3 separate regions of the Homo sapiens genome follow, and all the other regions are linked to region 2. Evidence: fine-mapped expression QTL. A gene starts in region 2. Each other region holds a variant in brackets. All regions are shown on one strand. Distances are between the middles of the regions. Region 1 has its middle 5.0 kb from the start of TNNT3. Region 2 holds the start of LSP1 (lymphocyte specific protein 1). Region 3 overlaps TNNT3 (troponin T3, fast skeletal type).

Evidence for each region. PIP is the estimated chance that this variant, and not a neighbour inherited with it, causes the effect. A credible set is the group of variants that fine-mapping cannot tell apart.
Region 1: its variant is the best candidate, but not a certain one, in a credible set for the expression of LSP1 in whole blood (INTERVAL, PIP 0.73).
Region 3: its variant is the best candidate, but not a certain one, in a credible set for the expression of LSP1 in whole blood (INTERVAL, PIP 0.60).

The regions. Positions count from the first base shown.
Region 1 is chr11:1,912,627-1,916,822 of GRCh38, reverse strand. It overlaps a transcript of PRR33 not described here. Among named protein-coding and RNA genes, the nearest start is that of TNNT3, 5.0 kb to the left of the region's middle. RefSeq lists a silencer at 353-402. The variant G/CACACAG (reference allele first, on the strand shown) is at 1,684.
Region 2 is chr11:1,851,516-1,855,679 of GRCh38, reverse strand. It overlaps LSP1 (lymphocyte specific protein 1), which reads right to left and starts at 2,596. Exons shown (of 11, transcript NM_002339.3): 1 at 2,483-2,596. The coding sequence starts at 2,535. RefSeq lists enhancers at 225-654, 2,505-2,824, 3,816-3,865.
Region 3 is chr11:1,936,048-1,940,243 of GRCh38, reverse strand. TNNT3 (troponin T3, fast skeletal type) reads right to left here. Exons shown (of 16, transcript NM_006757.4): 15 at 3,241-3,281; 16 at 1,542-1,806. The coding sequence ends at 1,752. Among named protein-coding and RNA genes, the nearest start is that of MRPL23, 9.2 kb to the left of the region's middle. RefSeq lists an enhancer at 3,889-4,196. The variant G/A (reference allele first, on the strand shown) is at 2,478.

The sequences.
Region 1 (4,196 bases), 61 kb before region 2:
GGGTTGCTGTGGCCGTGGACGGGAGGCTGCATCAGAAACACAGCAGGGCTGTGGCTGGGTAGAGCTCAGAGGGACAGGCCCTGGGTCCTTGTTCTCGAGGCTGAGCCGAGGGGTGCAGATGATCTGACAAGGGGCCAGGGCTGGTCGGGGGCGGGGTGGGCAGTGGCTGCCTCCTCAGCACTGCTGACCCCAACTACCCCCTGCCCCTGGTGCTGTCCACTCTGCACCCCAGTGCTGAGTGCCCAACTGTGGCCTTTGGGCCTGCCTCTCGGCTGCCCTTGGTCACCGTCCCAAGCGGATCAGGTGGGAAACAAGGGGAGTGCTGTCACTGGGTGGTTCCCCAGCTGGGGAGGGTGGCCTGGATCCTCTCTCAGTGGCTGGGGCATCTGAGAAAGGATGGGGGCACGTCACCTCCCTTGTGTGGGTGGTGGCTCTGTCGAGGTTTTGCTTTTCTGAACTGTGTGTATTCATGAGGCAAGCAGGGTTTGACATGAAGCCTTCAGAAAATAGTGGCTGTGAGGACCCAAGGGAATGGCAAAGTGAAGTCCAGAACATCAGAGTCTGGGGTGCTGCTCCTCGAAGGGACTTCCCAGACGCTGAAGGCTGCAGGGCTGAGTGTCAGGGCCCAGTGCAAGACCTGGGAGAGGAGGGACAGGAGGGAGGGTGTCCCCAGGCTGTCTGCTATTTCACACAGTTGTCCATTCATCCACCCATCTATTCATTCCCATGCATTCACTCTCACCTTCACCACTTCCTTTCCTTCCTTCCTCCCTCCTTCTCTTCCATCATCCATCCCTCCGTCTGTCCATCCTTTCAACCACCCATACAATCACCTACCCATCCACTCATCCCTCCATTTCATCTATCCCTCCCGCCATCCATCCATCCATCCATCATTAGTCTATCCATCCATTCATCCACCCACCTATCCATCTATCTACCCATCCATCTACCTGTCTATCCATCCATCCATCCATCTCTTCATCTATCCATCTACCCATTCATGCATCCATCCATCCCTCCCTCCCTCCCTTCATCCACCCTCCCTTCATCCATCCATCCCTCCCTCCATCCATCCATCCACACATCCACTCATCACCCCAACACACACACCTCCCCACAACACACACACACACAGAAACATCACCCCCCCAAAACACACACACATAACATCACCCCCCACAACACACACACACAGAAACATCACCCCGCACACACACACATACAAATAATATCCCCCCCAACACATGCACACACAGAAACATCACCCCCCACAACACACACACACACAGAAACATCCCAGGTGTGTGACCCCACAACACACACAAAGAAACATCATCTGAGGTGTGTGACCCCACAACACATACACACACACGCAGAAACATCATCCCAGGTGCGTGACCGCACAACATACACACACAGACACACACACACAGAAACATCATCCCACGTGTGTGACCCCACAACACACAGACACACACATACAGAAACATCATCTCAGATGTCCTATCCCACAACACACACACAGAGAATAACATCATCCCCAGGGATGTGATCCCAGAACACACACACATAGCAATATCATCCCTAAGTGTGTACACCCCACAAGACACACACACACACAGAGAAACATCATCCCAGTTGTGTGGCCCCAGAACACACACACACACACACACACACACA[G/CACACAG]AAACATCATCCCAGGTGTGTGACCCCACAAAACACACAGACACAGAGAAACATCCCAGGTGTGTGACCCCATAACACATACACACACACACTCACAAACATCATCCGTGTGTCCCCACAACACACACACAGAGAAATATCATCCCCAGGTTTGTACACCCAACACACACATACACAAACATCATCCCCAGGTGTGTGACCTCACAACACACACACAGACACACACAGAGCAACATCATCCCAGGTGTGTGACCTCACAACACACACACACACACACACACACACAGAAACATCTCCAGGTTTGTACACCCACAACACACACAGAGCAACATCTCCCCAGGTGTGTACACCCCACAACCCACACACACAAAGACACAGAAACATCCCAGGTGTGTGACCCCACAACACACACACAGAGCAACATCATCCCCAGGTGTGTGACCCCAGAACACACACAGAGCAACATCCTCCCCAGGTTTGTACACCCCACAACACACACAGAGCATCATCCCCAGGTGTGTGACCCCAGAACACACACACACACACACACACACACAGAGCAACATCCCCAGGTGTATATACCCTACAACACACATAGGCACATACACAGAGCAACATCATCCCTGGTGTGTGACTACACAACACACACACACACACACAAAGAAAAACATCTTAGGTGTGTGACCCAACAACACACACACAGACACACACACAGAGAAACATCATCCCAGGTGTGTGACCCCACACACAACACACACACACATAAGGAGCAACATCATCCCAGATGCGTGACCCTACAACACATACAGACACACAGAGAGACATCCCAGGTGCATGACCCCACACACAACACACACACACATACAGAACATCATCCCAGATGTGTGACCCTACAACACACACACACACACAGAAACATCATCCCAGGTGTGTGACCCCACAACACACACCAATGTGCACCGTGGGCCTGCACCCCCACAGCAGGCCTGCACATGGGAGTCTCAGCTACGCTGCGCCCAACCAGGCGTGTTCATTGGGTAATGCACAGGTGGGAACCGGGGTACGCCCGGGTGAAATCTGTTGGTTGGATGTCACCAATCTTGCTGTGCTGCCTGGTTCTGAAAGGCCCCCCAGGAGCACCAAATGGACAGGAGGCAAGCAGCTATGCTGGGCACAGAGGTGGTCACCACCCATGGACAGGGGCTCCGTCCCCCACGCATCCTGCAATTGGGACTGGGAGTGCAGTGGGAGCCCGTGGCAGCATGACGAGGGAAAAGGAGTCCGCGATCCCAGTGCACAGCTCGTGCTCACCGCAGAGCGCGGGGTGAGGCGTCTAGGACTGGAACGAAACGACTTGGCTTAGTGGAACAGACAGGGACTGAAGCAGAGCCTCCAAACCAGAGGACACGTGAGAGACAGTGACCAAAGCTGGCCATGGACACGAGAATGCCCCAGCCAACTGTCTGCCCTCTGCGGCCAAGTCAGAACCCAACTAACTAGAAGGCGGCCCTTTCAGCAAGGGTTAGAAAGTAAAAACACACCTGAATAGCTCAGGGATCAGAGGGGACGTGGTCAGGGAGAGTGGGTGAGGCTGGAACTGAAGGAGAATGGGAGACCCCAGAGCAAAGCCCTGGGTGCAGCTAAAACAAGACAGAGGGAAATGCGAGGCCTGGATGCTTATATCAGAAAGCGGGGGCCGGGCGCGGTGGCTCACGCCTGTAATCCCAGGACTTTGGGAGGCTGAGGCGGGCGGATCACGAGGTCAGGAGTTCGAGACCAGCCTGGCTAACACACGGTGAAACCCCGTCTCTACTAAAAAAAAAACAAAAAAAAAAAAACAAAAAAGTTAGCTGGGCGTGGTGGTGGGTGCCTGTAGTCCCAGCTACTCGGGAAGCTGAGGCAGGAGAATGGCGCGAAGCTGGGAGGCAGGTTTGTGAGCCGAAATTGTGCCACTGCACTCCAGCCTGGGCGACAGAGCGAGACTCCATCTCAAAAAAAAGAAAGGAGGAAAACCAAAAAACAAAGAAAACAAAGTATGGATTACCCCAGAACAAAAAAATAGAGAGGGGAAAGTATTAATAAGTATGCATCTAGTTTATGAAATTAGGAAATGAACAAAACACTAAAACCAAGGGAAAGAAAGCAATGGAAATAATAAGAAACATAGGAGGTTAATAGAATGAAAAATAAAAATTAATGAAGATCAACAAAATTAAATATTGCTGCTGTGTTGGCCGGGCGCAGTGGCTCACACCTGTAATCCCAGCACTTTGGGAAGGCCGAGGAGGGCAGATCACTTGAGCCTAGGAGTTCCAGATCAGTCTGGGCAACATGGCAAAAACCTATCTCTACAAAAAATGAAAATAAATTAGCCAGGCGTGGTGGCAGGTGCCTGTAATCCCAGCTCCTTGGGAAGCTGAGGTGACAGCATCACTTGAGCCCAGGAAGCGGAGGTTGCGGTGAGCCGTGATCTCGCCACTGCGCTCCAGCCTGGGCGACAGAGTGAGACTCTG
Region 2 (4,164 bases):
GCAGTCCAGCCTGGCTGGTAGCCGAAGCGGAGCCTGGACCCCGCCCAGGGTCAGGGGACCTTCTTTGGCCTGAGGCCTCGTGGGAGAGGACAGTCCTGTCCTGGGGGCATCTGAGAGACCACATCATGGAGGGGTGGTTCTGAGGAATCTGGCCCCGTCCCGGGCAGTCTGAGGGGAGGGGCCACATCATGCGACAGTCTGAGGGGCTGGACCCACTTGTCCAGCTGGAGGGGCTTGGCCTGCCCTGGACCTAGTGTTGAGGGCATGTCCTGAGACCGTCACAGGCTGGCGTACCTGGCACTCTGTGACATGCACGGGGGGCTGTCTTGTCCACTGCTCCAGCCCCAGCTGAGCCTGCCCAGCCTGGGCCTTCCTGGGGACTCCCGTGTGGGGGCTTCCCAGGCCATACATCCCTGCCTGGGTGCAGGGGACTTCTGTCCCATCCTAGACAGGAAACTCCCCGGTTCCCTTAGTCACCTTGTGAAATGAGAAGCCTACCCCACTGGGGCTCTCAGTTTCATTCTGAAAGGTCAGGCTTGGCTGCGCACCCCATGCAATTCGCGGGGGCAGGGGATGTCCAAGGAGGGGGTCCAGGCTTTGCAGAGCCCAGGAGAACCGCCGCTCTCCAGCTGGAGCGCCTGACAGCCCCGGCACAGGTGCAGCCCTGGCCTCCCAGGATCTGCACCAAGATGCCCCAGGATCATCTGTGCCTTGGCCATGCCCGCTCCAACCCCCCCTCCCCGCTCCTGGCCCGGGGGATCCAGGGCATTTGAGACAGCTGGGAGGGGGTGGCCAAGGATGAGGCCAAGGAGGAAGGCGGGGGTGCCCCAGCCCAGAGGCTCATGTCCTGCCCTTCTATGGGCATGAGGTGACCAGGAGCAGCACCTAGTCCAGGGCTGGGGGTGGTGCTGACAGGAGGGCCCGTTTTGCAGCTGGGACACAGCTGTTGTGCACCCAGAAGCCTGTCTCCCTGCACACGGCCTGGGCAGGGCATCCTCCCACCTCTCCCTGGGGACAGGCACGGACGTCCCGACCCAGCCCTCAGCCAGCCCCGGCCTCTGCTTAGCCTCCACTCCACTCACGGCACTCGGGGTCCCTTCAGTGGCCCCCCGCACCTGTACCCAAGTGGGATTTGGCAGCAAGAAGTCAGAGATGCAGACCCCTCACACATACCAGACCCACAGCAATGTGACGGCCACCAAGGACACAGACACAGGACAGTGACTGCAGCCACCAACAGCACAGGAGCTTTGTGTGAAGGCCGGGAGGTGGTCCCTGCACCGCCCCGGGTCGGGTAGACCGGGACCCTCTGCTGTCAGCACCAAGGCAGAGACTGGTAGCAGCCCTGGCTGCAGTTTTGGGGTATGTGAGCGTCACCCTGGGCCTCCTCTCAGGTCCGTCCTGTGTGGCTGCGGGCATCACACTCTTTCTGCAACCTGGGCCCCAGCGCCTTCCCTTCCGCACACCAGGCCACAGCCCCCGCTGACCTGCTCCTAGGCCGGCCTCTATCCCCAGCACCGGATCCCCATCCCCTGACCATTAGCACGTCGCCCCTCTGCCCCTCAAAGCCCTACCTGTCCCTGCACCGCACGCCCTGAGCCCTCCCATCTCTTCTGGGACCTGCACCGGGGGCAACTCGGGTTCCCCTGGCGAGGCTCAGCTGTGATGCCTGGATGCCTGCTGGCCGGCAGCTCCCCTCTGCCAGGGAGCCCAGTTACTAAGCCGCTAGCCCTCTCCACCCACCCCAGCACAGGGCTGGATGCCCATTGGTACCACAGAGTACAGCTGCCCGCTAGGAGGCCTTTGGCAGCGGGGTTTTTCTGCCCAGCTCTGGCAGTCCTACACACAACCTCTGCCATGCCCCCTCATGTCCCCACTCCAACCAACACACGGTGCCTGGCACCCAGCACAGGCACCTGCCAGAATCCTTGGCCTTGTCCTTTACCGCAGGTCAAGGGCAGCTTTGGGTGCCCTGCCCTGAGGCCTGCTGGGCCCCAAGCCTGGCGGCCTCCAGACCCTCAAGGCAGGATAGCCCCTCTCAGATAGTCCTGTGGGCAGGTGGCCAGGCCCGGGCCAGTTCCACCCATCCCAGAACAGCTGCTCCCCAGCCCCCACCTTGCCTCTTCCCAAGCTAACAGGGCCCACAGTCCCCAGCTCCTCCCTGGCAGTCCAGGACACGTCTTGGGGTCTCCTCGCTTCAGGCATCCACCATGGGCTTAGGATCCCACGCGCCTCCCCCAGTGAGTCCAGGGCACAGAGGCAGGCGGAAGAGACCTCCACCCTTGTTGTGAGAGGGGGGTCCCAGCAAGACTTCCTGCCACCTGTCTGTGGGTCCCCAGTTTCCCCATCGGACATCCAAGTTCTCCCATTGGGGGCCCCAGATTCCCCATCAGGCACCTCAGTTCTCCACCCTCCATGCAGCTCAAGGACTATGCACCCGTGGACACGGCACAGGGCGCCGGGCGTCGCCGCAGACCCTTACCCCAGCAACTCTTCCCGCTCCTCGGCACCCGGGTCACTCGAAGCCTCCGCCATCAGCCTGTAGTCTGGGCCCCACAGGGTGCTGGCAGATCCCTGGAGTGGGTGTACGTGCTGTGGCTTTCAGTGCTTTCTGGGGCGGCTTCTGAGCCCCCACCCCCAGCCGAGTTTCACTTCCCCCTTCCGGCTGCAGGTTGAGGTTTGGAACCTGTCTCGGCTTGGGTCAGGGTGTTGTTTTTTAATCTGTTGCTACAAGAGGAGAGGAAGAAAAAAAAAAAAACCCAAACCACCCCTCAGGAAGCGTTAAGCAAGTTACAGGGGCCTGGGGTGACAGAGACGGGGTGCGAGGGCCAAGATGGCCGCAGGCAGCTCTTCATGGCTCGGGGAGGGGGACCCATGTTACCCCTGGTCCCCGCTAGTAGCTCTGGCCATCAGGTCCACCTGTGAGTGGCCAGTTCTCCTGCAGCATCAGGGACAAACACGTCTGTGATCCCATAAGCACCACGTGAGCGTTTTAGCTTCTTTGGGTGAAATCTACCCAGAGGCCGGCTCTCCTACAGGTGCTCATGGAACTTGGTGGAGTCTTTTCTCGAAGCCTGGGGTCATAGCCTTGAGCACATCAAACAGCTGTGGGTCCCAGGTGGCTTTGGGGGCTGTGCCCGGGATGCCCCTGCGTTCTACCCGTCGGGTGCCTTGTTCTGTCTTGGACTGCCTTGCTGATGCCGAGCTGTCGGGCATCCGCCTCGTCCCCCCGCTGCCCCTTGCTCTCCGTGCTCTGGTCGCTGGAGTTGACCACCGAGTGGTTCGTGTCCCCAGGCTCTAAAGGCAGTGCCTCAGGGACCCTCCCAAGAGGCATAGGCCAGCCCGAGGGGAGGGATGGAGGCTGTTTCCAGCCCTCACTGTCCCCAGCTTCTGGGAGTGACCACGCAGTGGCTCCAGGGTCAGGAGGAGGGATGCATGACTGCAGGAGCCAGACCCCAAAAGCTGAGGCAGGGGAGGACTTAAGCTGGGCCAGAGTAGGGCAGCCACAGAGGTGGCGAAGGCTTCCCTGCTGGAAACCTCAGCGCAGGAGAATGGGAGAAGGGAGCCCTGGCCAGCGGCTGGGCCTGAGAAATCCAACCAGCAAGGACTTACAGGGGGTCCCAAGGCAAAGAGGGGCTGGAGAGAGGCCAGGGGTTGGGAGGGCCCTGGGCCCAGAGTGTTGACCCATCAGGGTGGGGCCGAACCGGAGGCCGCCTCCTTGGGACTCAGCGAGCCCCCCACCCACCAAACACACCACAAAGACCAGCAGAGGCTTTCAGAGCCCCACGAGTGGAGGCACCAGAGGGATCCGTGGCCCAGACGATGGGCAGGGCTAAAACCAGATCAGGCCCAGCGCCATGGAGATGAACAGGCCATGCCTGTGTCTTCCCCACGCCTCCTCCCTGGGGGTCCCTAAGGGCCCCCAAGTCCCCCTTGCAGAGTGGCACATGGCAGAGCCCTGCGGTTCTCACCATGCGGCCTCCATCCTGAGGCCATCCTGAAACGGCTCCCCTCATGGTGGTAGGGTCTCGCCTCCAGGTTGCAGCCATTCCGCTCACCCACCCGTCCAGGCACTGCATCGGCAGGTGCAATGCCTGTGTCCTCCTGCCCTTGAGGTCCTTCCCTTGGCCTGCAGAAGGGCAGCCCCAGCATCGTCGCTGGGAG
Region 3 (4,196 bases), 85 kb before region 2:
TGTGTGTGTGAGACATGGTCTCTGGTTTCTGCTTGTGTGTGTGTGTGTGTGTGTGTGTGTGTGTGTGTGTTTGAGACAGTGTCTCACTCTGGTTAGTTTCTGCTTGTGCGTGTGTGTTTGAGACAGGGTCTCACTCTGTTTCCCAGGCTGGAGTGTGGGAGTGTGTGTGTGTGTGTGTGTGTGTGTGAGACAGGGTCTCTGGTTTCTGCTTTTGTGTGTGTGTGTTTGAGACAGTGTCTCACTCTGGTTAGTTTCTGCATGTGTGTGTGTTTGAGACAGGGCCTCACTCTGTTTCCCAGGCTGGAGTGTGGGAGTGTGTGTGTGTGTGAGAGAGAGACAGGGCCTCACTCTGTTTCCCAGGCTGGAGTGTGGGAGTGTGTGTGTGTGTGTGTGTGTGTGTGTGTGTGTATGTGTTGTGGGGTCACACACCTCAGATGATGTTTCTTTGTGTGTGTTGTGGGGTCACACACCTGGGATGTTTCTGTGTGTGTGTGTGTTGTGGGGGGTGATGTTTCTGTGTGTGCATGTGTTGGGGGGGATATTATTTGTATGTGTGTGTGTGCGGGGTGATGTTTCTGTGTGTGTGTGTTGTGGGGGGTGATGTTATGTGTGTGTGTGTTGCAGGGTCTGCACATGTGTGTGATGCTATCTGGAGGTTCTGTTTTGTCCTCTGGGTCCTGGCCTTGTCCCCAACCCCATCGCAGACTGAGGGGGCCGTGCTGCTCCCCCCCATCCCCCGCTCCTTGGCCCCCATCCCCGGCAGCAGAACTCCCGGATGTGGCCGCCCGCCCGCCCCTGAGTCTTTCTGGGGGCCGTTCTGGACTCCAAACCTTCCTCTGTGAATATTTTGCTGTACAAGTCTCTGCGTCTTGATCCAATTTCTATGATTTATACTTTCCATAATTTTCTCTGGTCAGGATTTTCAGATTTACGACCCGCGTGCGCTCTGCTGTCCTGCGTTCCGGAGAAGGCTGTCTGTGTCTTCCCTGCCTGCTGTCTGCTGGGAGTGCACTCTCCTGCACTGTTTTTCCCCGACCAGGGCCTGGGGTGCACCCCTCACGCAGGAGCCGCTCCCGCCTGCCTCTGCCTTTCTGGGGGGTGGCAAAGTCTCTTTCGCAGCCCTGCCCTCCTCCCTCACCCCCTCCCGAGGCAAAGTTTCTCTGCCCCCAGTGGATTGACAGCTGGCGCAGATGGCCAGGGTCTGGGGCTGGGGGTGAGGCCTGCAGATCACCCCCTTCTGCACAAAGACCCTATGGGAGTGGAGAGTGGAGGGGCCCTATAGGCTTGCGCGGGGATGGAGCCCACGTTTTAGAGGGAAAAGCTGTGGGCAGCGTCTGATGGGCATCCAGGCACCGCCCTGGCCGTAGCAGCAGGTGGCACGTGCTGGCCAGTGCCCTCCTGAGCTGGCCCTGCGCGTACTGGCCAGTGCCCTCCTGAGCTGGCCCCGCGGATGACCAGGACGCTGTGCCATTGGCTAGCCCCTACCTGCCTCCTCTCGTGTCCTCCGGGGCCCCCATGCAGAAGCAAGTACAGACTGTGAAGGGGGTTCTGCAGCTTTATTCACAGGCCCCAGGGGATGAAGGCAGCAAGGACACAGACGCGGGGGACGCCCCGGGATGGCCTCTCCACCCCCAGGACTGTCAGGGAGCCCCTGACAGGATTGTGGGGGCTGGAGGATGTGGAGTCCCACGAGCGGCCCTGGTGTGCAAGAGGGCGGAGGGTCTCTGCCTCGAGGGGCCTTTCTGGCCTCTCTACTTCCAGCGCCCGCCGACTTTGCCCTTGGCTGGGGTCCCAGCCTTCTTGCTGCTGCAAATGGGAAGCAAGTGATCCTTCAGGGTCAGGGCCTCTGGCCATGCCCCTCCTGGTCCCCCACCCTGGGCGGACTCTCAGCCCGACCCCAGGCTGCTCTCAGGGCACAGGCCCGGCCCAAGCTTGCGGCCCACACCCAGCTTCAGTCCGGGCAGTGCCCACTCACCTGTGCCTGGCGGGCCTAGGTCGTTAGTGTGGTTAGGGGGCTGGCACGTGAGCCCGGGGCACCCTCCCTCTGTCCTCCTTTCTTTGCCTGAGGTACCACTGCAGACAGACCCCTGAGCTGGGGAAGACTGTCTTAGCAGATAATGATATAATCCTAGACGCTTGGCCTTGAAAGAGCTCATGCCCCTCCAGACGGTGGCCTCTGAGGGGCCCAGGAGCCTGCCCCATTTGTCTGAGGTCTTCATGTGGCCACGAGCCGGGAGGAGCTGGGTGCGGGTGAGGGGTGAAGGCGGGTGGAGGACAGGAGTGCTTCGGCCCGCGAGGCCGGCCCCATTCAGACGCGGCTGCTCAGCAGGACACCTGGCTGGCAAAGGCCGTGCCCTCACACACGTTCCTGGGCACTCTCGGCACATGCACACATGCACACACGCAGGCACATGCACACCACGCCGACTGCCCACCCTCAGAGGGGTCTGCAATGACCCCTGACGGCACAACAGGGA[G/A]GCCGTGAGGTCACGTGCACCACGGAGGAGCCCGCCCTGGGCGCCGCAGGGAAGCCAAGGCGACAGGAGGAGGGAGAAGAATCCCAGAAAACATCGAAACTCCAAGTAGCCCCCAAACACTGCGATCCTTGGGGAAATGGCACTGGCTGTGCAGCTGGGCTCCATGACAGGATCCCCAGCGTGGCATCGCCGGGGGCACCCTGGGTGCAGCCCCATGCAGGTGGTCGAGTAGCTGTGTCAAGGGATCCCACAGCCCCCAGGGACACGATTTTATGGATGAGGTTTCACCATCCTGAGGAGTCCATGATTTTGCCCAGCGTCACAGAGGGGCTGGTGATGAAGCCCTGACTGCTTAATTCCCTGTCCTAGGTCCCCTTGGAGGGTGGGACACTGGCGGGATACCCTGGGGCCCAGGTTGGCCACACCAAAGGCCCCCCGAGTAGCCCCTTCTAGGGGTCCCCTGGCTGCCCTCTCCCTGCAGCCAGTGCCAGACTCGGGGCGAGGGCGTGACAGGCAAGCCCCATTGGGATCCCTCCTCCTGACTCTGCCACCCCCCAGGGCTCCCCTGCGTGCAGGAGAGGGAGGAGGCTCCGGGTCCCTGGCCACAGGCCTGCGCATGCTGGCCTGGGTGGCCTGGCCGGGTTAGTCTCGTTACTGCCCTGCCGAGGCCAGCCACCACCGGCCCTTGTTAGGGACTGGCTACAGCGGCTGGCCCCAAGGGCCCCTGTGCCCAGTGCGGAGCGAGGACGGCAGGGCTACTCACTGCTTCTGGGCCTGGTCAATGCGGCTCCTGAGCGTGGTGATCTGTGAACAACATGAGTGACTCACTGCGACGACCCGAGGGCCAGGCCTGCGTGTACTGGGTGAAGGCCTGTCTCCACCGCAGGGTGGGCTGGGCTGCGCGACCCAGGGCTGCTGGGCCCCCATGAGGGCTCCTCGGCTCCCTTACTGTCTCCTGGCTCCTTGTGCAGGGGGACACCGTCCCGTGGCCCCTGGGCTCATGCCTGGACTTACTCTCGCCAGCCTGTACTGGCCTGGACTGCCACACACAGCAGCCCGTAGCTGGCCACTTACCTTCAGCCTGCGGCAGGATGTGGGGCGGGGGGTACGGAGCACGGATGGGGCTGGGGAGGGGTTGCAGGTGAGGCCTGCGGACCCCTCCTTCTCAGCTCCAGCTCCCTTCAGCCGCTGAGCTCAGAGCTCCGAACGGCCCTGCTGCTCCTGGGCCAGCCGCTCCCGCCCTCGTGCCTGTGCCCAGGGGCACTCTGTGGCCGCTGCTGGCTTGAGGCGGAGCTCCTGGGAAGGTGGGGGCCCTTCCTCGCTTGCCAACAGGGCAGCGGCCACTGGGAAGCCCCCGGCTGCAGGCACGAGGGGAGAGCGGGGGCAGGAGGAAGGCTCCAGGCCCCCTGCCGCCAGCATCCTGAGCGATCCAGGTTTTTGCCATGCGAGAGGTTCACCTCACCGTGCAACGCACACCCACGGGCCTGGCCCAGGGCGGACCCGGCTACTTACAACTTGGCCAGCATCTGCACTCTGGCCCGGACATTCATGATCTAGAAAGACCAAGATGGTTACAAGGCTGGATGGGCGGCTGGGGCATCGAGGCCCGGCTGTGGGCTAGCTTGGCCTGGTGATGGCCCTCCAGGCTCTGGAGCCCCTGGGGGCCCGCTGTGGCCGCATCTATCCAAAGCCAGTGGGTCCCTGATTCAGCTCTGGGAA